2 separate regions of the Homo sapiens genome follow, and region 2 is linked to region 1. Evidence: fine-mapped expression QTL. A gene starts in region 1. The other region holds a variant in brackets. All regions are shown on one strand. Distances are from middle to middle. Region 1 holds the start of WFIKKN1 (WAP, follistatin/kazal, immunoglobulin, kunitz and netrin domain containing 1). Region 2 holds the start of WDR90 (WD repeat domain 90).

Evidence for each region.
Region 2: its variant is fine-mapped to the expression of WFIKKN1 in pancreas (GTEx, PIP 0.98).

The regions. Positions count from the first base shown.
Region 1 is chr16:622,405-635,651 of GRCh38, reverse strand. WFIKKN1 (WAP, follistatin/kazal, immunoglobulin, kunitz and netrin domain containing 1) reads right to left here and starts at 4,667. Exons shown (of 2, transcript NM_053284.3): 1 at 4,228-4,667; 2 at 1,535-3,070. The coding sequence starts at 4,398. The coding sequence ends at 1,595. It overlaps RAB40C (RAB40C, member RAS oncogene family), which reads right to left. Exons shown (of 6, transcript NM_021168.5): 4 at 10,143-10,220; 5 at 9,531-9,753; 6 at 6,384-8,310. The coding sequence ends at 8,030. It overlaps METTL26 (methyltransferase like 26), which reads left to right. Exons shown (of 6, transcript NM_032366.5): 2 at 1-40; 3 at 312-371; 4 at 696-763; 5 at 855-933; 6 at 1,008-1,222. The coding sequence ends at 1,055. RefSeq lists enhancers at 1-407, 4,574-5,308, 5,489-5,783, 5,309-6,042, 7,512-8,245 and 1 more and a silencer at 7,875-8,125.
Region 2 is chr16:648,819-664,837 of GRCh38, reverse strand. It overlaps WDR90 (WD repeat domain 90), which reads right to left and starts at 15,473. Exons shown (of 41, transcript NM_145294.5): 1 at 15,412-15,473; 2 at 14,984-15,075; 3 at 14,671-14,847; 4 at 14,476-14,584; 5 at 14,129-14,299; 6 at 13,735-13,843; 7 at 13,572-13,639; 8 at 13,091-13,194; 9 at 12,799-13,011; 10 at 12,303-12,371; 11 at 11,387-11,497; 12 at 11,168-11,313; 13 at 11,035-11,092; 14 at 9,691-9,809; 20 more. The coding sequence starts at 15,421. LOC105371038 (a long non-coding RNA gene) reads left to right here and starts at 15,525. Exons shown (of 2, transcript NR_135177.1): 1 at 15,525-15,883. RefSeq lists enhancers at 4,562-5,452, 14,614-15,436 and silencers at 15,099-15,228, 15,339-15,438. The variant T/GGAGT (reference allele first, on the strand shown) is at 7,115.

The sequences.
Region 1 (13,247 bases):
CATCAACATGGCCCATGTCAGCCCCCTGCGCTGCACGGAGGTCTGTGGGGAGCCCAGCATGGGTGTCTGCCGTGGCACCACTCACCCTGCATGGGGGCAGCTGGGATGCCAGATTTGCCCCCATCACAGTCGGGGTGAGGGTCTCCAGCCTCCCCCATCACAGTCGGGGTGAGGGTCTCCAGCCTCCCCCATCACAGTCGGGGTGAGGGTCTCCAGCCTCCCCCATCACAGTCGGGGTGAGGGTCTCCAGCCTCAGGGCCTGGCTTCTGTTGGGGGCAGCACCTCACTGCCGTCCTGTTCCTACTCACCAGGGGCTCTTCAGAGCAGCAGGACACCTGCTCAAACCCAGGGCCCTGCTCATCACCTACGGGGTGAGTGGGCCTGTCCACGGCGGGCCTCCCGCTCCCAGTCCTAGCTGCTGTCTCCTGCCCTGCTGAGAGTCCTCCCTCCTGGGCTCCCTGCCCCCCGCCCAGCCACCAGCACGGCCTCCCCTCCACTTCCAGTCTGTACCCCTCCCTGGGTCATCTGCCAGCCTCCCTACCCCCTTGCCCACCAGGCTGGCCTTGGCTGACTCCCTCTTGGGGACAGGGAGGGGGTGCCCTTTCATTCTCCAAACCCCAGCCTGCAAGTCTGTCCCAGGCTCTCTGGGAAATACCCCGACCTTGGTCCAGTGGGCTGTGTCCCCATGCCCACAGCCCTATGCCATCAATGGGAAGATCTCCCCCCAGAGCAACGTGGACTTTGACCTGATGCTCAGATGCAGGTCAGAGCTAGAGGCGGGGGGTCTGGCTCAGGTGGCAGGTGGCTTGGGTGGCACCCCCCAGGCCATGACTCCATCTCCCCACCCTCTGCAGGAACCCAGAATGGGGGCTTCGGGACACAGCCCTCCTGGAGGACCTGGGAAAGGCCAGTGGCCTGCTCCTGGAGAGGATGGTAGGTGGGGGAGCGGGGGCCCAGGCAACCTCTCTAGGGGTTGAGGGCCGTCCTCCAGCAAAGTGTTTCTCCAGGTGGACATGCCAGCCAACAACAAATGCCTGATCTTCCGGAAAAACTAAGCCCCTCCTTCACCCCCGCACACCTGCATCCCTGCCGGAGGCTCTGTGAGGCACGAACCCTGCCTCCCTAGGCCGGACCTTGTGGACGACAGCCCCACCCAGTCTGTGCTCTCAGCCGCTGGCCGAAGGGCCCAGCCTGCTCAGAATAAAGCATGTCCTGCTGCCGGCTTGCTGGTGTCTGCCCCACCTCCTCCTAGGAGCACCTTGTGAGGTTGGGTGGGAGACGGGGTCTCCTGTGGGGTCAAGGGCTTGGGACGTCCTGATCCTTGCTGCTGGAGCTCGGGCAGTGGGATTGGGGCCGAGACAGCTGCTGAGGCAGGATGGAGCTGGTTGGGGATGCAGGGGCGGACAGGCACTCCCTGGTGACCTTGTACCAAAGCCCAAGCCCCAGTGGGTGTCAAGGCCCCAGCGGAAACTGGCTGGGCATGGGGCACCTGGAAGGATGAGGGTCGCCCGACCAGCAGCAGCAAGCCAGGAGGTCTGAGGCACAGGGAGTGCGTTTATTCACCAGGACGGGGTGGCGCAGGCCCCTGCGGGGGCTAGTCCTGGAAGCGGTTGAGCAGCTCGCAGGCCTGCTTCTCCAGCAGCTCCAAGATCTTCTTGACGCGCTTCTCGCTGGCGGCGCGGACGTAGCTGCCGGCGTCCAGCACGGCCACGCCATCGCGCACCTCACCCATGATGACCAGCGGCCCGTCGCCCGCCGTCATGTTGGGGCAGGGGCAGGCCCAGTCCATGCCACTCAGCGTCACCTCCAGGTACTTGGTGCCCAAGAACTTGAGGCCCATCTTGTCATCCTTGAGCACGTCCTCGAGCGCCACGCGGGCGATGCCGCCGGCGGCCTCGGGCTCCTCCAGCACCTCCGTGAGCCGCCCCACGATGGCGAAGTCGCTGCGGCACAGGCTCAGCGCCAGCTTGCTCCGGAGGCGGCAGGCGCGGCAGGGCGGTGTGCGCGGCACGGGGCAGGCATCCTCGCAGCTCTCGCGGCTGTGGAAGTTGTTGCCGTTGCCCTCGCAGCCACCGTACACGAAGGGATGGCACTGCTGCAGCAGCGGGCTGTAGGCCCAGCGCGGCTCCCAGCCCCGGCAGGGGCCCTGCACGGCAGGCAGCACGCAGGCGTCGCCGGGGCCGCGGGCACAGGCCTGCTGGCATGCCTCGTAGGTCTCAAAGCCGCGGGCCGCCCCATCACAGCCACGGGCCGGGAAGGTCATGCAGCCGCCCCGCTGCGGGTCGTAGTGCCAGAGGACAAGGTGTGGGGAAGTGGGGCCCGTGCAGGCCTGCACATCCGGCAGGCACTCGGCCGGGGCTGGGATGCTGGGGGCTGCGTCCCTGGCCGGCTCTCGCTGGACCACAGAGAGTGGGAAGTCAGCCCGCAGCAGCCCAGCAGCGTTGCGCGCGGTGCAGGTGTACAGGCCGGCGTCTTCGGGCCGCGCGTTGTAGAGCACCAGCTGCCCGATGCTGGTGACCACCACGTTGCCATACATCTGATCAGGGCGCATGATCAGGTTCTCTCGCTGGTGACTCTGCTTCTCCCAGGTCACAGCAGGCGGCGGGCGGCCGCTGACGTCGCAGTGGAGGCTGGCCGTACCCCCAACCTGCACCGCCTGTGGGGAGGGGCTGCTGTACAGGGCAGGAGGCACGGGCGCGGCCCCAGGTGTGGGGCGGGCAGTGGTCTCCGGCGGCCCCGGGCTGCTGGGCGGCCAGCTGAGCACGTGCTTGCAGGGCACGATGTGGAGGTGCAGGCCCCGCAGGCAGGCCTCGGCGTCCATATAGCAGCGGTTGTAGTAGGTGAGGCCGTCCGAGGCGCAGGTGAAGCTGGGCTCCTTCTCACAGCGGTCGCGGCAGCGGCACACGGGCTGCCCGTCCCAGATGTCGCAGTCCGAGCCCTGCTGTGGGCACACAAAGCCCTCGCAGGAGGCCGCTGTCGTCGGCGCAGCTGGGCTGCCGGGGAAGCGTGCTGCCACGCAGCTGTGCAGTCCACACACGTTGATGCAGCACTTCTCAGCAGCCGCACAGTCCTGGGGATGGGGGACACTTAGGTGGGAGCCCCAATGCCCCCCGCCCCGGGGCTCTGGCCTGGCCCCTGCAAGGGGAGGCCCAGGTGGGGTAGCAGGGAGCCCCCCGCTCTGTGGCTGCCTCCCCGGGGACTCAGTGTCCTTTCCATCCTGTGTGAGGAGCCACCTCGCCAGAGGTGCCACCTGGCTTACCTTCCAGAATCCTCACACCCACAAGCAAGTTCCGTTATTCTTTACGTTGTACAGACGAGGAAACTGAGGCCCAAGGAGGGCGTACAGTGCTCAGGACCACCCAGCAGGTGGTGCGGGCCAGGACAAAGGCTGGACATCGGCTGCAGCACCCCCACCACCATCTGCACTGGTCCCGGATGGAAGGAGGGTGGGAGGACAGGGAGGACAGTGGATGGAAGGAGAGGGTGGGAGGAGAGGATGGAAGGAGAGGGTGGGAGGAGAGGATGGAAGGAGAGGCAGTGACGGGGTGGGAGAAGAGGATGGAAGAAGTGGATGGGAGGAGTGGATGGGAGGAGTGGATGGGAGGAGAGGGTGGGAGGAGAGGCAGTGAAGGGGTGGGAGAAGTGGATGGGAGGAGAGGATGGAAGGAGAGGCAATGACGGGGTGAGAGAAGAGGATGGAAAAAGTGGATGGGAGGAGTGGATAGGAGAGGATGGAAGGAGAGGCAGTGATGGGGTGGGAGAAGAGGATGGAAGAAGTGGATGGGAGGAGTGGATAGGAGAGGATGGAAGGAGAGGCAGTGACGGGGTGGGAGAAGAGGATGGAAGAAGTGGATGGGAGGAGTGGATGGGAGGAGAGGGTGGGAGGAGAGGATGGAAGGAGAGGCAGTGAAGGGGTGGGAGAAGTGGATGGGAGGAGAGGGTGGGAGGAGAGGGTGGGAGGAGAGGCAGTGACGGGGTGGGGGTGGTCGCCGAGGATGATGGTGCCCCAGGGTGGAGGCACATGGGGAGCATGAAAGCTGGAGTGGGGAGGGCTCTTATTCTTAAGACAAATGAGGGCAACGATGGGGGTGTCTCTGGGCCCCTTAAGGGGCCCAGACCCAGACCCCCCAGAAGTCTGGGGAGCCCAGGCAGAAGGTGGCACCTCCAGCAGGGTCTTGCCCAGGCTGGCTGCTCTGAGCCCCAGGACCCCGGCCCGACCACACTCACCTGGTCCCTGCTACACTCGCGCTCACAGGTGCTCTGGGCGTCCACCCACAGGTTGGGGCTGAGCTGGTTGGGGCACACGCCCGGGTGGCTCCCCAGCCCTGGCAGCAAGCCAGCCCCCGAGGTCAGCCGGAGGAGGAGCAGGAGCGGCAGGAGTGGACGTAGGGCGGGCATGAGGGCCGCCGAGCCAGGGGGCCGGGGGGTGTGGCCACCAGCCCCTCCTCGGGCTCCACAGAGCCCAGCTTCCTGCAGGCATCCACCCTCCGGGCCTGTGGTCGGTGCCCCCACCAGGACCCCGGGGCTCCCTTTTGCCCCTGAGGCTGAAGCCTGCAGCAGATGCTTGTCCTGACACCCCTGCTGGGTGGGTAACGGGGTCTCCAAGTTCTCAGAGGCCGTCTGTGTGACGCTGGTTCCTCTCCAGCTTCAGCCTGGCCCCTCTGTCTGAACCGTGCGGGGGCTCCCAGGCCCTGGTCAGCACAGGGCAGAGGGGAGGAGGTTGGGGAGGGGCCAGAGGCCCATGAGCACAGAGCCACTGGCCATGAGGGTCACCGGGGCGGGGAAGGGCTGGCTCTGGCTGGAGAGGGGGAGGGGAGGGGACCCTGTAACCTGAACCCCTTCGTCCACCCCTGGGCTGAGATCAATCTCCTTGACGACCCTCAGTAGGGTGGGGGCAGGGCCAGCAGATCCCAGCTTTTGTCCCTGGCGCCCTCTGGACCCCAGGCTCCTATGCCATGGGGGTGGCAGGCACGGGCCCTCCCCGCAGAGCGTGGCTGACCACAGCCTGGGTCCCCCGGGCCAGGTCCAGGCTGGCAACGGTCACGTGCGGCCGAGGGCTTCACTCCGCTCCGAGGTTCCTTCCCCCCTCCATGGCTGTTTCAGGGGCACAGGGGTCTGCAGGACGCCCAGCACAGCCCGGCCTCCTCTGCTCTGCTGCCCCTGTTGGAGTGGGGCCCAACCCGGCAGGACTGCATTCCCAGAGACCCCATCCCTGAAACCAGGCAGCGGGCTTGGGGCTCAGGCCTGTCCCCAAGGCGGGGCAGGTGCAGCAGGAAGAGGCCTGTGGCCACCACAAGCATAAGAACAGCCCGAAACGCTGATGCCGGAGCCTCGGCCCACGCACCGTGTAGCCCTGGACGTGGCTCCGCGTGGGATGGCACCGCCCGAGGGAAGGCCAAGTGCAAGGGCGTCTGCAGCTGAAAAGAGCAAGTGTCCCAGGGCACCAGAGCCTTGCCCTGCCCCAGCCCCCCGTCGGCGGGGCACACATCCCCAGGCTGGCTCCTCTTCGTTGGGGAGGGCAGGGGGCTGGCCTGCCTGGTGCAGCAGGACAAAAGGCTGCCTGGAATCTACCCTTCCAAACCCTCTGTGGCTCCAGATGTCTGGGGCCTCAGGGAGTGGTTCTCTTGAGACCGGATGGGAGTGTCCCCCTGACCCTGTGTCTGACCTCTGACCCAGGAGGCAGGGTAACAGGAGCCTGGTCTGGTCAGAATGAGACCCGGAGACGGCTCCAGGCGCCAGTCCCTGCTCTACAAGGAGACTGGGGGTGGGCCCTGATAGCGTGGGGGTGGGGGTAGCTAGGCCAGACCCAGCAGCAGGCGGCTGGGCTGGAGCTGCCAGGGAGGGGCTTAAGGCCCGGACATGCCCACGAAACAGCACAGGGAGGCACCTGAGCCAGAGGCTGTGGTCTGGTCCCTGTACCAACTGGAGTGCCCCGTTCCAGCTCAGCTGTGACCTCCGGGGCGTCCACACCCCCCTGGGCCGGGCATAGCAGACACCAGATTGGCCAGCGTGCAGGCGGCTCTGCTGAGCGGGCCGACTGACTGGAGGACCTGGCCCTCTGGAGTCCTGCTGCTGTTGGGGACAGTCCGCCCCAGGCCATCTGCTGCCGGGGACTGTGAGCGAGGGCTCAGCACAGCCCAGCTGGGATTCCATCCACCGGGAAGAGGAGAATGGCCGTGACCAGGCCCAGCTGCTCCAGCCCAGCTCCAGCCCTCACTTTGAGGCGAACCCAGCCAACCGCGGCAGGTCAGCCCGGTCAGCGCAGGGAACAGCAGGCAAAACAAAGGCCAGAGGTCAGTTTGCCGGGTATGAAGCAGCACTGGCCCCTGGCACGGGGCACCGCCACTGCCAGACCCACCCCACCAGACACAGCAAAACGTGGGGACCACAGCTGAATTACATTTACTGTACAAAGAACGGTTCGGAGAGAACCAGGAATGGCGGAGTGTCTAACAGCAGCGCGGGTAGTGTTGATGCCGTGAATGCAGGACCATCCAGGTCCTCAAAGTCTGTGAGGTTTGTTCATAATCCCAAACAAGGGCCCTGCTGGCAGCAACAGGACAGGTGGGGCCAGGACAGGGAAGCTGGAGCAGGAGGCCAGTGTCTTTGGGGGCTGTGGCAGGGCCGCCTGCCTGGGGTTCCCTTACTCATCTGGTAGTTCATGCAGGCCACGGCCCTCATCTCCCAGGAACGGGCCATGGGGCGAGTCCACTGGTGCCCAGTAACACCCTCCGTGGGACCACCTTGGGAAGCATGTGCCGCGGAGTCCACCACGGGGGGTCCTGGGTCCCGGGAGGGCTCCTTCTGCGTGCTGGCCATGTCGTGCCGCACGGCCTGAGGACAGGAGGTAGAGGTGAGCACCAGTGCTGTGGGCAGGCCCAGGCGATGGTGACCGTGCAGAGGGGCTGCTGGGGCAGGCATGGGCAGAAGCACTGGGTGGAGGAGCGGCCAATGGCTTCAGGAGAGAGGTGGCCGGCCCTGCGTGCCTGGGGCTCAGCATGAGCGCCGGGCTGGTGGGCCTTTGAGGAGGGGCCTAGCCTCCCGAGGCCCCCAGGTGGACGTGGACGTGGACGAGGTGGTTCCAGGCACGTCCCTAAGAAGGTCAGGATGGTTCTGATGCCGTGCAACCTCACAGGAGAGCTGCAGCTGTGGGGACCCCAGGGCCAGCGACAGAAGCTGCCGAGAACAGGAGGCTGCACGCAGGTGCCCGGGGTCTGCACCGCTGCCCATCAAGTATTCCTAAGTCTACAGATAGCTCTGCACTCTCCAGGGTGGGCGAGATGATCTGAGTTTTGAGTGGTCAATGTCCCCGAAGGTGTCACATCACAGCAGGAAGGTTCTCATCCCCACGTGGGGAGGGATTTGGGGAGCAACAAAAATGTGGGCTGCCAGGTGCACCTCCTTTCTCCCCTCTCCTGAGTGCTGCTTGGGCTCTGACCACAGGACCACACCCTCCATCCCGTGGGAGCCAGGGCCCCGGTCACCCAAGCTTCCAGAGGGAGCACCGGCCCTGTCTGCTCCCCCGGCCTCTGGGCAGCCCCGCCACTCGCAGCGCATGAATTCACAGGATGCCTTGCCATCGCGGCCGCGAGTCCCCTCTCGAGGAGTCCCAAGTGCGTCCCCGCAGCTGGCGTGGCCATGAAGTCACCAGTGCACCACCACCGGGCCACACCCAGGCTTCCCTGAAGGCCCCTTAAAAATGTACAAAAAAGTGAAGTGTTCTCTATATAAATAAGAAAGGCCAACCAGGCTCCCCGCCGGTCAAGCCCAGGCAGCTGGGGAGGCCCGGCTTGTTTCCGACCAAGATTCCCGGAAGCACCAGCAGCCCAGCCGCGCCCCCTCCTCCCGCCTGCCGCGCTTGGTCCGTGCATGCTCCTCCTCGCACCCGGCTCAGGTGTGAGGAAAGCCCGGCGCTTCTGAGGCAGCTGTGTGGACAGTCTCCACGTAGGCGGCACTGGCCTGGCGTCCAGCCAGGAGTGTCCAGCTCGAGCCCTCCTGGCATCTGCACAGGCGGCCCCGCCCATCCCCGCTAGGAGATCTTGCAGTTACTCCGCGAGCAGTTCTGGGGGGGGCTCTGGGGTGGACGGATGGACTTGGACCTCTTGAGGCTGTTGCCCTTGCTGCCGCCGCCCCCGGCCCCGCTGGCCAGGGAGTAGGAACGGCCGTGCATCATGACCGCGTTCATGCCGTTGGCCATCGAGAAGGACTTGAGGTGGCTCTTGATGGTGACGGGCAGTGGAAGCTTGTCGATGAGGTGCACGGGGGTGCAGGAGACGATGGCCCGGCAGCAGAGGTCCTGCAGGCTGAACACTGTGGGGCAGAGGGGGTGTCAGACCATGGGGCTGTGGGGGAGGAGGCCCTGTGCAGGGAGACCTGAGGTGCCCAAGAGAAGCCTGGCGGGGTCTCCACACTCCTAGAGGTGTTCCCAGGCTGGGCTCCTGGAGGACCTGGACGCCCAAACTTCTCTGCCCAGCACAGATGTGTCCACTGGCACCCCATCCCCTGCCTTGCTCCCTAAAGCCAGGCACGCTGGGCGGTGCTGCTGCGGGGCTTCCAGAGGGCACTCTGCCCAGTTCCTGGCCTGGATGATGCAGCTCCCAGTGTGAGGGCTGCGTGATCTGGCCCTTCAAGCGTCCTGACTCATCCCCTAGAGCGGGGGAGCGCGCGTCCTGACTCATTCCCTAGAGCACTCGCTCATTCTTTTGTTTTGTTTTTTGAGACGGGTCTCGCTCTGTCGCCAGGCTGGAGTGCCGTGGCACGATCTCCGCTCACTGCAACCTCCGCCTCCTGGGTTCAAGCGATTCTCCTGCCTCAGCCTCCCGAATAGCTGGGACTACAGGTGTGCGTCACCACGCCCGGTTAATTTTTGTATTTTTAGTAGAGACGGGGTTTCACCGTGTTGGCCAGGCTGGTCTCGAAGTCCTGACCTCAGGTGATCCACCTGCTGTGGCCTCCCAAAGTGCTGGGATTACAGGAGTGAGCCACCGTGCCAGGCCCGTGCTTCCTCTTAAGAAGGACAGTGACACCGTCAGCCACCCTCTCTCTGTTCAGCAGTGAACCCTGCTGGGAGGCACCACAAAATCAACAGTACCACCTCCCTGAGGGGGGCTTCACGGGAGCCTCTGATCAAGGATGTGGCTACCCAGGAAGAGCAGATGACACAACACAAAGCTGCAGGCACGGCTCCTGTGCTCCCCTGACAGCAGGACCAGCCCCGGAACCAGGAAGGAGCGAGCACACACTGCCCACACCAGCAATGCCAGGGACCCACAGGCATGGCAGAGTGCAGCGGCCACGGCGGCACCCTGAGGGGGGGTCATCAGCTGCTCCTGTGCCCCCCAGTGCTGCCGCCTCTCCCCCGAGGCTGCTCTTACCAAGTCACTGACCTGCCGCCGGCCGAGCCCCTACTGCGCGTTGCCAAGGGACCTGCCTGAACCTCCCTCACTGGCCCCTGGCCCCCCTCAGCCTCCATGTGATCAGGGCAGCCCAGGTTCGGGGACCTCAGGGCTGGCCGGCGCCCGCCCACCCACCTCGGTTGGGCCTCCAGATCTTCTCCATGCCGTGCCGCATGAGCACGATGCGGGATAGCTCCGTGAAGGACTCGATGACGTTGAAGTTGCACAGGGGGCTGACCTCAAAGAAGGTCATGCAGTTCTTCTCTGCGTACGCGCGGGCCTGCTCCGTCGGGACCTGCCGCTTGAAGGCCAGGTGCAGCCGGTTTCCAACCAAGATCCGGGGGACTCCGGGTGCATGCTGGGGGCACAGAACTCAGCAGACGCACAAACGCAGGGTGCCACCCACCCCTCAGCCGCAGCAGGGCCCGCCCTCATTGTCTGGACTATGATGGGGTGAGGGCCGTGGGAGGTCAAGGTGGGCGGAGGTCAAGGTGGGCAGACCCCAGGGCTCAGGCCCTACAGTGCAGCCCTTCCGGGTGGCCCCGTAGCTCCTGGTCTTGCTGGGCTCCACGCCCGACTGTCGTGTGCACAGTGACCAGCATGCCCAGGCGTAGGCCGTGGGACAGTGCAGGGTGCAGAGCCGGGGCCACAGGAGGGGCGGCAGGCGGGAATCCAGAGCCTACCCGGGGCCCAGGTACCTCCATCCAGCCTGCCTTCCCCGGGAGGGCTCCCCGGACCCAGGCCTACCTCATCGATCTCCTTGATCCAGCGGTCGATGCCGTCAAAGGACCAGCGGTTGGTGATGTCATACACCAAGAGGATCCCCTGCAACAGAGACTTGGGGGTCATCAGGGGTCACTGACACGCATGGCCAGCCCAGGCCCAGGGACGCTCAGGTGCAGGGGCCTCAGTTCCCGGGCAGGGCCAAGGATGCTTATTACTTGGCGGATGGGCAGATGAGCCATGCCCTCCAGGCAGAGCTGGTGCAGCCCTGCCCCTCACCCCTGCCCTCACCTGGCAGGACTGCAGCAGGGGGGTGGGCGCCTTCCATGGTGTCAGAAATGCCGCTTCCCCTCCCTCCCCTGGAGCCATCAGCCTGTGGAAGTTTCCTGGGCAGGCAGATGCGGGGTTCTGGCAGCCGGGGGACGTGCAGCTGTGGAAGCTAAGTGTCCTCTCGGCCAGTCCATCAGTGAATCCCCCCGGGAGTACCTGGGACAGAGCTGAGTGGGGGCATTTCTGAGTTTTCCAACCTAAAACTTGCAGAGCAGAATGCCAGTCCCTCCAGGACAGTTTCTGTGAAGCTCCCCCAGCCAGGCAGAGCAGGTTTTGCCACGGGGACTTTTTGCCACATCCCTTAGAGACCAATTACTTGGAGCTCAGCTCTGGGCTGTTTCCACCTGCCCTAAATATCTCGGCAGTGACAGTCATGGCTCTCCAGCAGCACAGGGGAGCACACTGCTCACACTCAGAGCCCTGTCGGGCGAAACGGTGACATCACAGGCCCATTCCCCTATGCCCGCCTCTCCCCAACGTCCACTCCCACCCTACAATTCTGCAACCAGATCCAGCCAATGAGCTGTGATCCACCCTACTCCTAGGCTGACAAAACCTTCACGTAATGGAAGAGCCTATCACACAAGAGGCTGAGGCTGAAAGAAGAGGGCACTGTCCATCTGAAAATTAGGGTTTTTAGAGCCTCTTAGAACCATCTTTCGATATCTGGAAGACTGAAGTGTAGCCCCAGGTCCTGTTTAGAACAAGGTTGACATTACTAAGCTCCCAGGGCGAAGGCCTTGCTCAGGATGGAGCGACAGCTCAGGAAGGACACCTCTCGCTGAGGGAGACCCTTCGAGGCCAGAGATGGCCAAGTCAGTCTGGTGGGCGATAAATGATAAGATTCAGAATAAACAAATGCACACCCAGGGGTTAACCCTGGAGGTTGGGGCACAGGGACTGGGGCTGGCTCATTTGCTGCTGGGGGAGGTGGAGAGACTGGGGAGTGGGCCACCAAAGCGTACAACACAGCCCACTCTCCCTAGTGGCAACCTCCCGCATGGCAACCTCCCGCATGGCAAGCCCACAACTCAGAAGTAACTGAGGATGTGTGTCACAGTGGCGCTGATAACAACGACAAGCCAGACACAAATTAAATGTCCAGCCTCAGGGGACAGCTGAGTAAGCGGCAGTGAAATGTACCGTGCAGATGCTGAAGACAGCAGCAGTGCATGTAAAAGCGTGCATGCTGGCCAAGGAGAGATGTGCAACCCAGGTGAGGTAAGAACGCAGGTCCCAGCACTGCGGATGGCATTTTCTTTTTTTTTGAAACAGGGTCTCACTCTGTCAGCCAGGCTGGGGTTCATGCAGTGGCACGATCATGGCTCACTGCAGCCTGATATTCTGAGCCTCAGCTTCCTGAGTGGCTGGGAATACAGGTGTGAACCACCACATCTGGCTAAGTTTTTTTAAACATTTTTTAGAGATGGGATCTTGCTATGTTGCCCAGGCTGGTCTTGAACCCCTGGCCTCAAGTGATCCTCCTGCCTCAACTTCCTAAAGTGCTGGGATCAGAGGTGTGAGCCACTGTGCCCAGCCCAGCATGATTTCTTTTTTTTTTTTTTTTGAGACGGAGTCTCACTCTGTCGCCCAGGCTGGAGTGCAGCCGCACGATCTCCGCTTCCGGGTTCACGCCATTCTCCTGCCTCAGTCTCCTGAGTAGCTGGGACTACAGGCGCCCGCCACCATGCCCGGCTAATTTTTTTGTATTTTTTTTTAGTAGAGACAGGGTTTCACCGTGTTAGCCAGGATGGTCTTGATCTCCTGACCTCCCGATCTGCCCACCTCGGCCTCCCAAAGTGCTGGGATGACAGGCGTGAGCCACCGCGCCCGGCCCAGCATGATTTTTAAAAAATAAAAGTATGAACACACAACACATTACACTGAAGAAGTTTATATGGACATAAAACAAATGCTAAAAGGCTGGAGAGGGGTAACTTTTGATGCTGACCTGTTTTCTGTGGCAAACACCCCTATTCGCATGACACTGAAAACTCTAGAAAGAGAGCAGAAGGCCCGCCTCCCGGCTGATGGGCTGCCTCAGGCTCCAAGTGTGCTGTGACGCGGGGGGCCCTGGCCACACCTCCCGGCTGCTGCCCTGAGCGGGCCCCCACTTCCTGGGATGGCCATGTCTGAGGAGTAGGGGTTACGGGCAGGGGCGATGGCACAGGAGGACCCGGAGGCTTGCTCCGGCGTGGGTCACAGTGAGGCCGCAGGGACCCAAATGACCACGGAGTGAGAAACCAAAAGGAGACTCTCGGTGACCAGCAGCCGCCTAACGAACGGCACCCTAAGCACCCTCAGCTGCGTGTCTCAAGGGGCAGAGCACGGGACAAACAGACTCTTCCACTGCCTTCTGTTTTCTAAAACTGATCTGATTTTTAAAAAACTAGCGACTTCGGCCAGGCGCCGTGGCTCACGCCTGCGATCCCAGCACTTTGGGAGGCCGAGGCAGGCGGATCACGAGGTCAAGAGATGGAGACCATCCTGGCCAACATGGTGAAACCCCGTCTCTACTAAAAATACAAAAATTAGCTGGACGCGGTGGTGCACACCTAGTTCTAGCTACTCGGGAGCCTGAGGCAGGAGAATGGCGTGAACCCGGGAGGCGGAGGTTGCAGTGAGCCGAGATCGCGCCACGGCACTCCAGCCTGGCGACAGAGCCAGACCGTGTCTCAAAAAACAAAACAAAAGAACGAGCGAGTGCTCTAGGGGATGAGTCAGGACGCGCGCTCGCCCTGCTCTAGGCCCCTCTAGGAGCCGCCCTGACAGTCAGTTTCCTCAGCGTCTACAGACGTG
Region 2 (16,019 bases), 28 kb before region 1:
CGTGGTGGCGGGTGCCTGTAGTCCCAGCTACTTGGGAGGCTGAGACAGGAGAATGGTGTGAACCCGGGAGGCGGAGCTTGCAGTGAGCCAAGATCATGCCACTGCACTCCAGCCTGGGCGACAAGAAACTCCGTCTCAAAAAAAAAAAAAAAATTCAGTTCAGCTGAGCAATGAGGGACTGCAGGGACTCAGACCAGGACAGCTCAGTCCATCTCCCCGGGAGGGCCCTGGGCCCTACAAGGAAACGGCAAAGTCCAGGCCCAGGCAGAACCGCCCAGGCAGAACCACACAGGCGGGGCCCAGAATTCCTCGCACTTCCACATCACAGGAAGGCCACCAGTGACCACGGGCTCAGGTCACGGTCTCAGGACCCGAATTTCCCAGCCCTGGTGGATGGACACACACATGATCTATCCGTACAATGGAACAGTATTTGGCCATCAAGAGGGATGACTGGCTTGGCACACACAGCGGCTGGGATGACCCTGGAAACCATGCTCAGGGTGAGAAGCCAGGTGAGCCAGTTCCTACAGAATATCCTGAATGGGAAGACCCAGACACAGAAAGCCACTCAACGGTCGCCAGGGGCTGGGGAGGCGGGAAGCAGGGAGCGACCGAGGAACAGGCACGCACGGGGTTTCCTCTAGGCACGCACGGGGTTTCCAAAGCTGCTGAATATGCCAAAAGCCACCCCCTGAAACACACGGAGCTTGTGCTGTGACGACTACACCTCAGCAAACCTGCTTCCAGAAAAGTAAACAACCCTCACCTGTCTCAAACTCAACTTTCTTTGCTGGCTATCGTCATCTCCAAATACTAAAGACAGGTTTCTAAAGAAACAACCCAGGGGCAACTGGATGATGGGACTCAGCATCAAGGAAAAATCAATCCCGTGGGGCCCAGCTGACCACACGCAGAGCTCTTACACCCACAGGAGGAAGCCCATGGCCACAGCTGCTAGACCAACGCCACGCCAGGAACCTGGTCCAGCAGGGGAAGGAATGGCACCTGTCCTGCCGCCCCAATTCCGCCCAGGAGGCCACCTCTCCTAAGGCTGCAGCTGGCGGGTGAGGGGGCGACACGGTGGCTGTCCCAACCCCATGAGGCCACAGAGCTTCCAGACCAGGAGGTCCCAGAGAGATGAGTGCTGTGTACTTCTTGGAGACGCAGCTCCAGCACCAGGAGGCTGCAGGCCAGAGCTGGGCCTTACAGGACTAGACCCAACACCAACCAGAACCTGAACAGACCTGACCCAGAGAGAGCAGAACTTGACCCAGTAGCTACCTGGGCCTCCTGACCTCTTGAGCCTCAGAGAACAATCCCATGAGACTGAGTCAGCAAAGCCAGTCTATGGGAGGTGCAGGGACAGACGATGTGGGGTTTTTCATCTTTTTTTTTTCCTTTGAGATGGAGTCTCTGTCGCCCAGGCTGGAGTGCAGTGGTGCAATCTTGGTTCACTGCAACCTCTGCCTCCTGGGTTCAAGCGATTCTCTTGTCTCAGCCTCCAGAGTAGCTGGGATTACAGGTATACATCAAGAGGCCCGGCTAATTTTTGTATTTTCAGTAGAGATGGGATTTCGCCATGTTGACCAGGCTGGTCTCGAACTCCTGACCTCAGGTGATCCACCTGCCTTGGCCTCCCAGAGTGCTGGGATCACAGGCATGAACCACCACGCCCGGACTGATGTGATTTCTTTGACAATTACAAAAAACAAAAAACAAACAAACAAAAAAACGCAAAGCAATAGCAGGGAAAGGACAGTTTGAGAAGACCTGCAAGGCCTGCCAGGCGGCTCGCTTGTGCAGACACAACCGGGACGGCTTTGAGGGGACGTGCACACCCAAGACTTCCCCGCTGGGAACCCCAAGGCGGCCGCTGCGAGCCAGTGACGGCAGGACTTGGAATCATCTGGGCTGGTGGAGATGGAGCCGGCAGGCAGGGAGGGCACCAGGTTCGGCTGCCCCGCCTCTGCCCAGGCTGGAAGTCCCTCACCTTGCTCCTGTGGCCACTGATGAGACGTGTGCTGGTGCCCTCGGCCCAGCTGACAAACCACAGCGTGCCCGCCGTGGTGCCCACGACGCCCATGTCCACGCTGTCATCGAAGCTGGCACTCACCACAGCCCCGTCCAGCACCAGCTCGTGTTCCATGAACACAGAACTGGACCTCAGGGTGCAGGGAAGGAGAGAACAATGGGTCTCAAGGCCGATGACAAGAGCCAGCTGGGTCCCCAGCCGAGGCAGGGCCCTCAGCATTGCATCTCAGGACCTGGCTGTGCCCTCCCGGTGGAAGAAGAGAAAGCCCATGGAGCTGGGGCTTCTGGGCCCATGCCCGTACTCGACAGCAGCCAGTGAGGCCCAGGCCACACCCAAGCCTGTCCCTTGGAGGGGCTAGCAGGCGGCCGGTCTGCAGGGCGGCCTTTGCGGGGGCGGGGCACTGGCTGCAAGCCCCAGTCAGGGACACCAACACCCACGTGCAGCCAAAACACGTAGGGGTGAACAGCTCACCTGGCGCCTGAGCCCTTGCACCTCAGCTCCGACACAGCCCCCACGGCCCACAGGCGCAGCCGCCCCGTGCTGCTGCCGCTGACCAATCGAGAACCCGAGAACAGCAACAGCCCTAGGGGCAGGAGGAGCCATAAGGGGCCACGGCTGCCTTCCCAGAGGCCCTGGGTCACAAGGCTGCCCGGACGCCAGGGCTACAGATGAGGCCTCTGCCCCAGCTCTGAGGATCCCAGGTAGGGGTCCTGAGGGCCACAGGGCTTCTGCGGGGCACTCACCAATGCCACCGTCATCCGCCTCCCAGGACAAGAAGCAGCGGCCGGCACGCGTGTCCCAGACACAGACCTGGCCAGAGCTGGTGCCACAATAGAGCAGGGGAGGTGCCCCGTAGCAGAGCGAGGTCAGCTCTCCAGCCCCCACTGCCTCTGGGACTGGCTCTCGACGCACCTGGCAAAGTATGAGAGTGGCCATGGGTCAGCAGTGTCCCGGGGCCCAGGCAGATTCCACCCCACAAAACAACCCCTGGGCCCAAACGCTGAACGGGTGGCACCTGAAGGCTGATGTCTGCCCCACGCTGCTGAAGGAGCCAGAAGGTGACAGTGCCCTGGCCCACACAGGTGAGCTCGCCGGCGTCCCAGGGGTTGAAGGCCACACCATGCACCGGCTCCGGGAGGCGGGTGGAGGACACGAGGTCATAGGTGGCCGTGCCCCACAGGGCGAGGGTGCGGCCATCGTGGTCCCCTGGGAAGGACACAGAGCAGCCACGTCAGGTGCACAGATGCAGCCCCCCCCGGGGTCTAGGGAAGCCCCTGGCCTCCACCCTCCCTCCCACTGACCCAGTGTGACAAGAAGCCTGTCATCTGGTGAGAAGGCCAGGGCCAGCACGGTGGTGCTATGGGGGAAAATGAGATGCTGGCAGAGGCCGCCAGACACGTCCCAGACGCGGATCTGACAATGGGCGGTCGTGCTGCTTCGGCCCGAGGCAGAGGCCAGGACCTGGCAGGCAAGAGGCCAGGCGTGAGTGGGGAGGCCGTGGCTGGCTGGAGTGGAGGCTGGGGTGGCCGTCTGCTCCGTCTTTGGTGGTGAGAACCCGCACCGGTCCGGGAGCTGGGTTCTGCCGGGCACGGTGGCCCTGGGAGAGGAGGAGGGCGATGCAGGCGGGCACCTGGGCACTGTGGCTGAGGGCCAGCGTGGAGATCTCCGCAGAGTGGCCGGACCAGTGCTGCTGGGCGCCAGAGTGCAGGTCCTCCACCACCACCAGGCGGCCGCACGTGTAGGCAAAGAAGCCTGTGCGCAGAGAGGGCGGGGCCTGAGGCCGGGCCGGGGGGGGGGGGGGGCGGGGAGGGGCCTGGGGAGGGGCCGAACAGGGGGCGGGGCCTGGGCCGAGCCGTGGGGCGGGGCCAAGGGGTTAGCATCGTCCCAGCTGCGCCCTCCCCAGCGTCCAGTAGCCAAAGTGCTTCACAGGACCTCGGCTGGAGCGCCAGGAGGCGCTACCGGGAGAACAGAGCCCCACACTGATGGCTGGCGCTCATTTGCCACCAGGTCCTGGCCTTGGGGTGGAGACGGCTGGACCACGCGCGGCCGCATCTTGGCTGGGGGTGGGGGTAGGCTCTTGGCCCCCACCTGTGTCCGGCCTCCAGACCATGTTGGCCCGCCCATTCCCGCTGTAACCGACGACAGCCTTCAGACGCAGCCACCCACCGCTGGCGGGAGGCGGGCAAGTGCCCTGCGAGGAAGGAGACCCGGATGCTGCTGGGGCCCAGCATGGCCACCTGTGCCCCAAAGCCTGCACATGGGAGGCTGTGTTGGGGCACACCCAGGCCAGCTGCAGAGGACACCCAGGGGCAGACGGGGAAGCTGGGGTAGGAGGTGTGGGAGCTGTGGGCACTGTGCCAGGGCCAGGAGGGGCACAGGCCCGTGGGGCTCTCATCAAGGGCAGCTGCTGGGTGAGAGGGGAAGGCAGGTCAGCAGGAGGCCACCACAGAGTCCCGTCTGGAGGCCAGCGGAGGGCAGGGGTGGGGGTGTGGGATGAAGTTGCCTCCAGGGGACAGGCGCCCAAGGGCCAGAGCCATCACCTTTGGCGACCAAAAGCAACCCTGAGGAGGTGCTGGGGAGCCCTGCGGGGGGCCTCTGTGCTTGCTGGGGATAAAGAGGGCTCCCAGAAACCACTCCCCACCTTGGCAGAGTGGGGGCTGCAGCTGACCCTGGCAGGCGTGAAGGCCTTGCAGGAAGCCAGGTAGGTGGTGCGTGGGGCCCCCGAATTCCTGGTGTCCCTGGCGCCTGGCAGGGAGGAGGCAGAGCTTGTGGCATTACACTGCCCTGAGCTCTTCAGAGACCCCACACTACACGCAGTCTCCCCACAAGCCCCTGGTCTACCACACAGTGAGAACTGCACGGCGGGGCACAGGCCGGAGCCACAGACGCAGGCAAACCGTGTCCCACTGCAGGTGACCTTGCCTCGTCACACGGGGGACTCACCGACCGTCCTCAGGCCCCTGCACCGGCACCAGCGTCCCTGCCCTGCCCTCCACTGCTCACGGGGTTGGCCGGGGGAACGGGGAGGCAGGGCAAGCCCCCAGGAGCCCACTGCCGCAGCCCAGGCCCCGTCTCCAGCCCTGCCAGCCTCCTCCTCCGTGAGCACAGGTGGGCCTGAGGCCTGCCCAAGCCCCTCGGGGTCACAGCTCTCCTCACAGGGTCCTTCCTCATCTGACGGGGACAAGGTGCCTGGGGCCAAGGGGGAGAGGAAAAGCTGCCCCCATCCCGACCCCACCGTGTTCCACCTGATGAGGCTAAGGAGGAGAGGAAAAGCTGCCCCCACCCCGACCCCACTGTGTTCCACCTGATGAGCAGCGATGGCACCTGCACCCCAGAGCTGGACGTGCGTGAGTACCTGCTGCCACTGGGCCTGTGCCCTCTCAGACCCCCGAATCCCCCCACTCCTCCAGGACCCCTGCTGCTCACCATCGCCACCTTCGGGAGGCCTGGCACAGACGCCCAGCCGTGGTGGAGATGCCTGACATGGCTTGGGGACCTGCTGCCGGGGGAGCTCGCTGGCCCTGGACGCTGCGTCCTCCAGCGGTCCTGCGCCCGGGCCTGGGGAAGAAGCAGCCCTGTGATGTTTGGGAAGGAAGAGGAAGGGCCACTAGGCAGACACAGGACGGGCCCCAGAGTCAGCGCAGCACCTGCACCCCAGCTGAGCACAGCCACTCACCTGTCTTGCAGGCTGGGGGGGCCCCGGGGAAGCTTTGGTCGCTGGAGAGGGAGGAGAGAGGGTTTCAGGAGGGCCTGGGGGGCCTAGGCAGACACAGCTGAGAGTAGGCACTTGCCTCTCAGTAGGGGCCAGGACATCCCAGAGGAAGACGGCGTCCCCTGCGCTGAGGACCTGCTGCTGGTCAGGAGAGAAGGCCACAGCCTGCACGGGTTCCGAGTGGCCGATGTACACCTAGGGGTAGCGGCGTCACATGCAGGACCCCGAGGCGGGGCATGGATGCTGCCGTGTGCCCAGTCCCCAGGGACGGTGAGCCCCACACAGTGTGAGGCCCCGGAGGCACAGAGGATCCTTGGGGGGTCACTCTCACCCCTCACCTTCTGCTCTCCCTGCCCCCACCCACACCTGCAGGGGTCTCCAGGGCCACCTGAGGAGGCTCCTGACCGCCAAAGCCACCTGCCTCCCCACGCACACACCTGGGGGCCTGGGCTGGCCTGTGTGGCGTAGTCCCACACCTTGATGGTCCGGCCGGCGGCAATCAGCAGGAAGCGGGCGTCCTCACTGAGCGTCAAGGAGGGGCAGGGCTCAGGGTGGACACCGGGCAGCTGGAACACAGTGCTCTTGGGAAATGCCGTGTCTCAGGAGAGTGGCCAGCAGCCTGGGGCCTCCCTTCGTTGTGGGTGTGGCGACGGCCCCCCACCCAGCTGGAGAGGCTGCAGGCACAGAGGCCAGGCCTGGACAGCACAGGGAGGGCCAGGTCGGCGGGCCACAGCCCTGAGGCTCACCTCCCGGATGATGCGGCCCGACACAGCATCCAGCACCACGACTCTGTTGGACGAGGTGGACACCAGCAGGTGGCCCAGAGCTGCAGGGCCAAAGCACACAGCCATGGCTGAGTCCAGGCGGCTGCTGGCCAGGTCCAGAGTGCCGATGTCAACTCGCAGCAGCTGGGGGTAGTGGTAAGTGGCCGACAGTCAGGGCCCCTGGGCAGAGCCGGTGCCACCCAGGGTCAGGCTCGGGAGGGAGGTCCCGGGGACACGCACTCGGCACCCAGGCAGCACCTGCCCTGCACAGGAACCTGGCCGCACGTGGGCCCCACATGGCTGATGTGTACTCTGCGACAGGAGGCGGGACAGGGCCTGGGTCCTGCTCCCGAGTGGCCGTGACCTCCCTCCTGCCCCTGCAGCCAGCCTCTCATGGCCCAGTCTCCCTGGACCCAGGAGGGCTGCGGACTCACCTCATCAAGGGAGGCCGAGCCCATGACTGTCACTGTGCACCTGGAGGGTCCCACAAAGGCCAGCAGGCGGCCATCCCTGCTGACTGCCAGGGCGCTGGGGCTCGCGGGGGCATCCGGGCATACCATGTCCGCTGTGGCCACACGGGGCAGGGGTCAGCTGGGTGGGGAG[T/GGAGT]GCCGGGGTGCGCGTGGCCAGGGCCCGAGGAGGCCGCCGCCCCTGCCCCCACTTTCGGGAAACACCAGCCCCGGAGCACAGACGCATCACACCGGCAGAGGATTGCCAAGGTGCCAGTGGGCGCCAGGCGCTGCCAGGGGAGCTGGGAGTCCCCGTGGGCCAGCAGTAGTCATAAGTGACCACTCAGGGGGCCCAAGTTATGGTGGCCGCAGGACAGGGCAGGTGCCCATGCCTGGGTCTGACTCCAGCTGCTGACCTGGAGCTTGGGCTGCCTGCCGCCTCCTGGGCACAGACCCGAGCTGACCTCTGGCCTTGGGGTCCAGTGAACGCTAAACCACAGTCTCCTCAGGGCCTTGACAAGGTTACTGAGGCGGCCACGCCCCCCCACAGGACCCAGTCGGTGCACCAGGAAACCGGCATGTGTGTCCAGGTGTGGGCCTGCACCAGATCCAGGCCTCCCCCGCCCTGAGGAGTCCCCCAGAGTGGCTGCAGGGGGCCCAACCTGCCACTCGGAGGACATGCCACTGGGGGTCCGCACAGCTGTACTGGGCCAGGGAGCCCTGGGAGCAGGAGCTGAAGAGCAGGCGGCCGTCAGGGGTGGCGGTCAGGCCGGTGACAGCTCCTCGGTGGCACCTGCAGCACACACAGGGACCCCGCTGGCCCTAGCCCCGAAGCCCAGGTACCATGGGTTCCCTCGACCTCCAGCCAACCAGCCTGGCCATGGAAGTCCCCATGGGGCAGCAAAGGGTGGGGCTCCAGCCAGCACTGGCCATCCTGCACATGACCCCCACCTGGCCACCCCAGCTTCCACCGTGGGGTCTCCGTGGGGCTGGTGGCCAGCTGGGCACTTACGTGTGTTCCACCAGGACCTCAGCGGCCTCCAGGCTGAAGGAGCGCACGGCCCCACTGCTAAAGCCACAGAAAAAGGTTGGCCTTGTGGGGTGGAAGGTGACAGCGCACGGGGCGTCCTCTGATGATGTGAAGTCGTATAGCTGTGGGACAGGGGCCGTGCTGAGGGGAGGGCAGGGATCTCAAGGGCCCAGGGGCTCTCCAGGCGGCCCAAACCCATGGGGCCGACACAGGCTGGAAAGTCCAGGTCCCTATAGGCCCCTCTCACCCCCGCTGACAAACCCCAGCTTCAGGACCTCCCGGCCCTCCCTGCCGTGCTGCCCCTGCCAAACCCCACCTGCTGCAGGGTGGCCAGGTCCCAGATGCGGACGGTACGGTCCTGGGACACGGTGGCCAGCTGTCCCCGCCTCTGCTCCATGGCGAGGGCCAACACCGGGGCGGTGTGGGAGCGAGCCAGCATGTGGTACACCCGGGACAGCGTGTCCAGGAAGCCCAGGTGGCCCGAGGAGGTGGCAGACAGCACACGGAGGCCATCGGGGCTGACACAGACTGAGCTGACGGGGCCCTCGTGCTCTGTGGGTGGGGTGGGGTCAGGGGCCTCCAGGGCCACCCCGGGGTGAGCCGCATGCTCAGGCTTCGGGTCCCCGACACCCCAGCAAATGCACTCCCTGCTGCTCAAAGTCCCAGGCTCCACACGGCTGCAAGATGCAGCTCCCTCGAGGCCACCACTCTTAGGCTAGGCGGGACCCAGGCTGAGGGGCTTCACACACTACCCACGTCCCACCGGGCCCTTCCGTGAGGCTGCCCCGCGGGCCGCCCTGGCATCAGCCGCCCCAGGGCTCTGGATATGCCACTTGGCCCCGTGGCACCCTGTGCAGCCAGGAGCCAGGGCGGCTGACAGCAGAGCCCCGGGGACTGGGCCTTCCCCGCCCCAGCATCCAGGCGAGGCTCTCCCGGAGTTGGGAGAGCGTGCCCACAGCATCACCTGCCTCCAGGAGCACCGAGGAGAAGTCCAGGGGCCAGAGCCGCAAGAAGCCGTCCTCAGAGCCCACAGCACACATGGCCGGGGAGACGCTGAGGCTGCTGATGGCAATGCCGGGGCCTGGGGGCAGGGAGGCGTCAGTGCCTCGGTGTCCCTGCCACCCTGGCCACGTGGTGGGCGCCCTCTTACCTGAGCTGAAGGTCTGCTTCTGTGGGTGGGGACCGCCTGGAGTCCGTGTGGGGAGCAGGCGGCGGGCATGCCGCACGACCATGCGCTGACAGTCAATCTCCAAGATGTGGCCACTGCGGCTGCACACGAAGCTGCCCGAGGAGGCGGCAGGGAAGGTGAGGCCCTCAGGGAAGGGGAGGCCCAGGCACCAGGGCCCCCATGCCGGGGCAGGCCGTGGGGAAGGGCAGGGACTCACAGCATGGCAGCCGAGGGCTCCGGGCAGCCGTCCCGGGCCTGCTTGAAGGCCAGGTCGGTGAACTGCAGCGCGTGGTGCTCCCCTAAGTCCACGGGGCAGGAACGCAGCACCCCGCCACGCAGCCGCCAGAGCCGCACACTGCCCTGCCCGCACGACGCCATCCTGCAAGGAATGAGGACTGAGCACTGCCGCAGCTCGCAGCGCCCTGACCCACCGGGAGACGCAGAGACGCACAGCCAAGCCAGGGGGAGGTGCTCGGGCCTCGGCCCCCACTCCGGGCCCAGACCCTCTCCCAACATCGTGGATGGGCGGCTGCATCACCTGGTTTCATCAAAAAAGGTGACCCGGAAGGCCTGGACGTCAAAGTCAGTGTGCGCCTTTGCCAGAACGACCACCTCGCCACCGAGGCCCACCTGGCCGGTGCCCCAGGCCACCACCATCTGCAACAAGCCCAGGCTGAGCCCGCACGGCAGGGCCAGTCGGGGCCACCTCGATTCTGCAAGGCCCAGCCGAGCCCCACCCGGAGGTGGCTTTTCTCTCATGCGGAGACCAGCCTCTGAGCGTGCGGCCGTGGAGAGTGGAAGGAAACCAGCCCCTCCATCTTCTCATCCTGAAGCTTTGGGACTTCTACAGAGACCCGCAATGCTGAGCACTGCAACCCATTCGCAGAGAAGTACAAACCCCCCCGCAAGCCGGAAGGTGGATAAAAAGCAGCTCGTGGCTGGGCACAGTGGCTCATGCCTGTGATCCCAGCACTTTGGGAGGCTGAGGTGGGAGGACTGCTTGAGCCCTGGAGTTTGAGACCAGCCTGAGCAATGTAATGAAACCCTATCTCTACAAAAAGTTAAAAAAACAAAACGTGAGACCATCCTGGCTAACAAGGTGAAAGCCTATCTCTACTAAAAATACAAAAAAAAAAAATTAGCCAGGCATGTTGGCAGGCGCCTGTAGTCCCAGCTACTGGGGAGGCTGAGGCAGGAGAATGGTGTGAACCTGGGAGGCGGAGCTTGCAGTGAGCTAAGATCGCGCCACTGCACTCCATCCTGGGCGACAGAGCAAGATGCCATCTCAAAAAAAAAAAAAAAAAAAAGTTAGCCAGGTGTGGTGGCACACGCCTGTGGCCCAGCTATCTGGGAAGCTGAGGCAGGAGGATGGCTGGAGTCCAGCTGGCGGGGAGGTCAGGGAGGGGGTCAAGGCTGCAGTGAGCTATGATTGCACCACTGCATTCCAGCCTAGGTGACAGAACAAGGCTCTCTCTCAAAAAAAAAATGTTTAAAAAGGTGCCCCCACCAAGATGCCGGGTGCTTCGGCTGTGTGGAGGTGCCATTGATGCCCAAGCGTGGGTCAGCTGCAGGGGCTCTGCCACGTGAAAATCTTACAACCGCATCACCAGCAGAGAGAACGAGGCGAGGTGTGTAAACGCTGGCTTAAACCGACTCCGATGGCCGAAAAGCCGAGACGTGAAATGTGAGCTGCTGGTGGTGGTTTTTGTGCAGGGCACGGGGGCGGCATGAACACCAGAGTGCAGGGAGCCCCACCACAGGGAGGACACAGAGCAGGGACCCAGGGTCACATGAAGCTGGAGTTTCAGAAAACCAAGACCCTTCCAGCTGTCTGCGTGCATCAGGACAGCCCCACCCCAACCCGCAGCCAGGGCCCTGTTACCGTCCTCCCGTGGTGGTCCTTGCCAACCCCGCAGAGAAGGGCCCCGCTGTCAGAGAAGCTGTGAACAGGGAGGAGGTGGTCATTGTCGCCTGGGCTGACCCCCTCCCCCTGCATGGGGCAGACCTGTGCTCACCTGAGAGAGCAGACAACGTGCATTGGGCTCCGGAACAGGCACAAGCACCGCCCGGTCTGGAAGTCCCAGAGCCGCATCACACTAGGGGCCCTTGCCTGGGCCGAGGCCAATAGTGAGCTGCTGCCATCCAGCGCCAGGGCGGAGACCTAGGAGGCAGAAGGGTGAGGGAGGGTGTAGGGGCTGCAGGTGTGAGCTGCCCCAGGCCCGGGCAGCACCCACCTTGTCTGTGTGGCCAAGGAAGAAGCGCTGCTCCCCCGTGTCCACGAGCAGGACGACGATGACCGCATGGCAGGGGTACACGACAGCCGCCCCGTCTGGGGTCCACAGGGCCTGGCACAAGGGGGCGGGGGGCTGAGGACCGGTGCTACGCCAGGCCCCTCCTGGCTGCCGGGAGGTCAGCCTCACCTCCCACTCCAGCCCAGGGAGAGGGGGTGGCAGGCCTGGCACACACACCTGGGCACACAGCCACCCAGGGGCAAGAGAGAACACACACCCTGCACACACTACATACACGAGTCACAGGCTGCATGTGTCAAAAGAACAGCTGGAACACTCAAGCAGACACGTGTACACACATGCACAGACGCCTGTCCTCTAAGCCCCGCCTCCAGTGCAAGAAACTCCGGGGTGGGGGTAACAAAAGGCCAAAGGGCCCCCAAACACTCAGAGCAGGCACCCAGCAGGGCCTGACAAGGGCCCAAGGCCACTGAGGCAGAGGGGAAGGCCACCTCCTCTGCCATGGGGCTCCTCTCCTAGAAGGCCCACGTCACCCATGAGGGACCTACAGGTTGTGCCCACAGCCTGGCCCCACACTGCTGGTCTGGATCATCAGAGCTCTAAAGACGTGAGAGCTCTGGGTCTTCGGGGGGAGCACTTAGCCCAGCCAGTGAGTAAGAGATGCCCGTGACCCTGAGAGCCCCCGGGCACCAGGAGGTGACAGCAGCTGTGGGCGGGGCAGATGCCTGAGCACGCGGGAAGCAGCGGACTGCAGGGGGACGGGACCGCTGTGCCAGGGGGGCTCGGGAGCCCACACACAGCCACCACAGGACATAGGTCTCTCCTCTCTCCCCGTTCTGTACTCAGCGCTCGAGCCGGCCAACGAGAGCTGCTCTGGACACAGCCGCAGGAGCCTCACCTGTCTGGTGCCGTGGCCCCCAAAGCCGATGACGCCCTTGAGCCTCAGGACTGGGTCTGGGAGGAAGCCCTGAAACAGCCATTCGCATCAAAGTCCTGGGAGGCTCAGCCAGGTCCCCAGAATGCCCGACCAACTCCGAGCCCCGCCAACCCCTAGCTGGGTCCTGCCTCTCAAGAAGACTGCCCTGGTCCTGGGTGGCTCCTGCTGGCTGTGGTAAGGTGGAAGCTGGGACTCCAGTTGCACTGCCAGACCTTCGAGGGTCCCCCACAGACCACCTGGGGCTGACGCATTGGGGGTGAGCAGAAGCCCTGCCTTACTCTTTGTGGACAGAGATTCTTCCCCAAAGCCGCCTCCCGCCAGCTCTGCTCCTTGCCAGGAGGCTGAACAAGAGGAGACCGTTGGAGGCACATCCGTTCTGAATGCATCTCGGGGCGGGCTACCAGCTGCCCCAGCCCACACCTCACCAGGCCCCGCCTGCTGTGGGATGGGCACTCACTTCGCAGGAGCCGGTGCGGGCCACGGGCACCTCAGCCGACTCGTGAGTCAACACGTGGGTGCCGGCAGCAGCCGTGTGGATGTCAGAGGCCTCCAGCTGGGCCCAGGGCTCAAGGCTATGGAAACCGGGGCCATCCGCGTTGGAGGCGTCTGAGCGCTCTTGGGACAGGCTGACCTCCGGGAAGGGCCTGGGTGCCAAGGCGGCCCGGCCGGACTGCTGGGGGACAAGTGCCCATCAGCGTCCTGGGCCATCACACCCCAACCCCATCTCATAGGGCGAAGGGGGTACTCACGGCTGTGGGGCTGGGCGTCTGGACCACTGGAGACACACTGAACCGCACAGGTTTGCTGGAGGCCACCGGGCAAGGGAGAGGCTGTGGCCCCGGCCCCAGGAGGACTAGAACAGAGCAAAGAACCCCAGTGACCCAGGGGCCAGCTGTGCAGATGCCTGGTGAGGGTGACGCCTGGGGAGGGCAGCAGCAAGTGGCCCAGCCTCACCGGCTCTGCAGGACCCACAGCCAGTATCCCCACTTCCACCCTAGGCCCTGAAAGTCTCCTCTTCCAGCTAGAAAGCTTGGGGCCCCCGGGTACCCCTCACACAGACTTCCCACCCTCGTGGTTCTGGGAACTCGGACAACCTACGGGCTTCCCTGGGTCCCTGCACCAGCTGCAGCCAGCACACCACTGGGTCCTTTCCCAGCCCTGCCCTCTCCTACCGAGCCCCACGCACCCTACAGGCCTTAACCTGGGTCCCCGCTGACCCCCCAGACCCACCTGCCTCAGGAGGGGAACAGCTCTTCTCAATCGGCTTGGAAGGCACTTTCAAGCTCTCACTTGGAAACCTTGGCAGGCAGAGGGAGAGTCAGTGTCTGGGGGCCCAAGGGCCACCCACCCTCCCACCACCGAGGCCTCCCTCGAAAGAAGCAGAACCACTCACCGGACGTGGATGTAGCGGTCATGCCAGCTCTCTCCCTTGGGCACAGGGAATGCCATTTCCCGAGGCATAGGAGTCACGGGCAGCTTTGCCCACTGGGCCCCAGAGATGGCTACAAGGAGCAGGGTTGTTCCAGGTCAAGGGAGGCTGTTTAGCCACCTGAACACAGGGCACCCGCCAAGGCACTGCCACGCCACCAGCCCAGCCACCGCCCCACCCCAGGGCTGCCTCTGGGATGGGTTCTGACCCCAGGGCTGCCTCTGGGATGGGTTCTGGCCAGAGCTCAGAGACAGCACAGCTCGAGCACTGTATTTTCCCAAGCACCCTGGACTTGGGCCTCTCCAGGGCTGAGAGCATGGGTGAGATATGGAGTGGGGAGTGCAGGTGCGGCCCTCACCAGGCTCAAAGCACAGGTCACTGGTGTACAGGTTCCTGACCAGCAGGCTGGCGCACAGCCTGATGCTCTTGAGATGGCCGTAGCACCGGTTCAGGTAGACCAGGAGAACGTCCTGCAGATCGAGCTGCAGGCAGGTCCAGCGGGCTCCGGAGGGGGCCAAACCCACCAGATCTGCAGGATGGGCACTCAGGGTCAGCGCCCACCCTCCTGACAGCCCGCGACTCCCAGAACTGTGAGCTTGTGCCCCCGCCAGGTTGTCCTCCAGGCCGCAGAGGAGCCTCACTGGGCCTGCACCAACTCCCTCCAGCCACCTGTCCTGGATCATCCACACCCCATCTTGGTGTCACCTCTCTGAGGTGTCCTGGCCTCCAGGACCAAGGGAAACTGGAGCCACGTGGCCGTAGACTTAAACTCCTTGAAGAGGTTGGAGAAAGACACACGGATGACTTGGTTGTCCTGTGGGGACGGAGCAGGGCCGTGAGGAGACAGGGGCCGCAGGGGTGCCGGGGCTCCCACGCAGCCCCCAGCCGCGGGCTCCGTACCTTGGAGGACACATCGAGGTGGATGACGAAGTGCTTGCTGGGCAGGGGCCGAAAGAGCACATACAGGTATCGTCCCGTCAGCCCCAGAGACTGGGTGCTGCTCTTAGGGAGCTGGATGTAGTTGGCGGCAGAGACTGAGCCCCGAATGCGATACACGGCGCCCTTCAGGGTCTTGTCCTGGAGAAGCGGGAGCCCGCATCACCGACAGCACCCAGAAGAAGTGCAGCGGGGGCGAGGGGGCCCTCGGGGGCGGGGCAGCTCTCCTGGGGGCAGGGCAGGGGTGTGGGCTCCGGGCGAGCCCCCGGCCGCCTACCGTGACCACGGCCACGTCCCCCTGCTTGGCGGAGCGCTTCCACTCGTCCACCCGGAAGTGTCTGAAGACGTTGAGGAACGGGTGCTGCCACGCTGCGGGGAGCGGGCGCCGGGCGTCAGGGGACTCGGCCACGCGAGCCGGGGCCACTGCGGGGCTGGGCCGGGCCTCGGGGACCAGGCAGGAGCCGGGGCTCTCCGCGCCTTCCCCGGCGACGCCAACGCCAGCTAGGCTGGCGGGACGAGGCCGGGCGCCCGAGGGAAGCCAAGCTCCGGGAGCCCGAGGGTGGGCGCCCGGCAGACGGGACCCTGCCTGAGCGGGGACTCTGGCCTCAGGGCCTAGGCGGGGGCCCTGAGCGCTCCGGCCGCCGACCCTGGACCCCGGAACCCCGGAACCCGGGATCCTCGGGACCCCCGCCAGCCGCGCGCTACCTCGGGCCATGGCGCCGCCGCTCGAGCTTCCCGCCTAGGCCTCCGCGCGCCCAGCGCAGAGTACGCCCCGCGACGCCAGGCAACGGCTGCCTGGCAACGGTGCCACTTCCGCCATTACTTCCGCCGTCATGGCGGCGCCCTGGCCACGTGACCTCCCCGGTGGGAGTACCCCGCTCACGTCAGCGGCCTCCAGGGTTGCTCCAGCCGCGAATCCCGCTGCCCTTTGCCCCGCGGGCCTCCCAAGGCAGCCCCCTGTTAGCCCGACCGGCTTCGAAGCCCGCGCCGGTTGCGGATCCTCCGCCGCGCCCACCTGTCAGCGCCTCGGCCGGCCGGGGCTCCCGCCGCATGCAAGCAGCGAGGCGAGGTCGCGCTGAGGCCTGGCCATGCCACGGACGGCCGGGCCTCACCCTGCCGCTCTCTCGCCGTCCAGAGGCCCCTGCTCCACACCTGGGTACCCTGGGTCCTGACTCAGGTGGGCTGGGTCATCCCCGTCCATCAGGGAAGGTAGTGCGGGCGCCCGCGGAGGGGCTGGTTCCCACGTTCGTCCTATCAGGTTCCCCACGTACTCCTTCGCCCAGTGTCCTGCGGCCGGGCCCGGCGGATTCAGA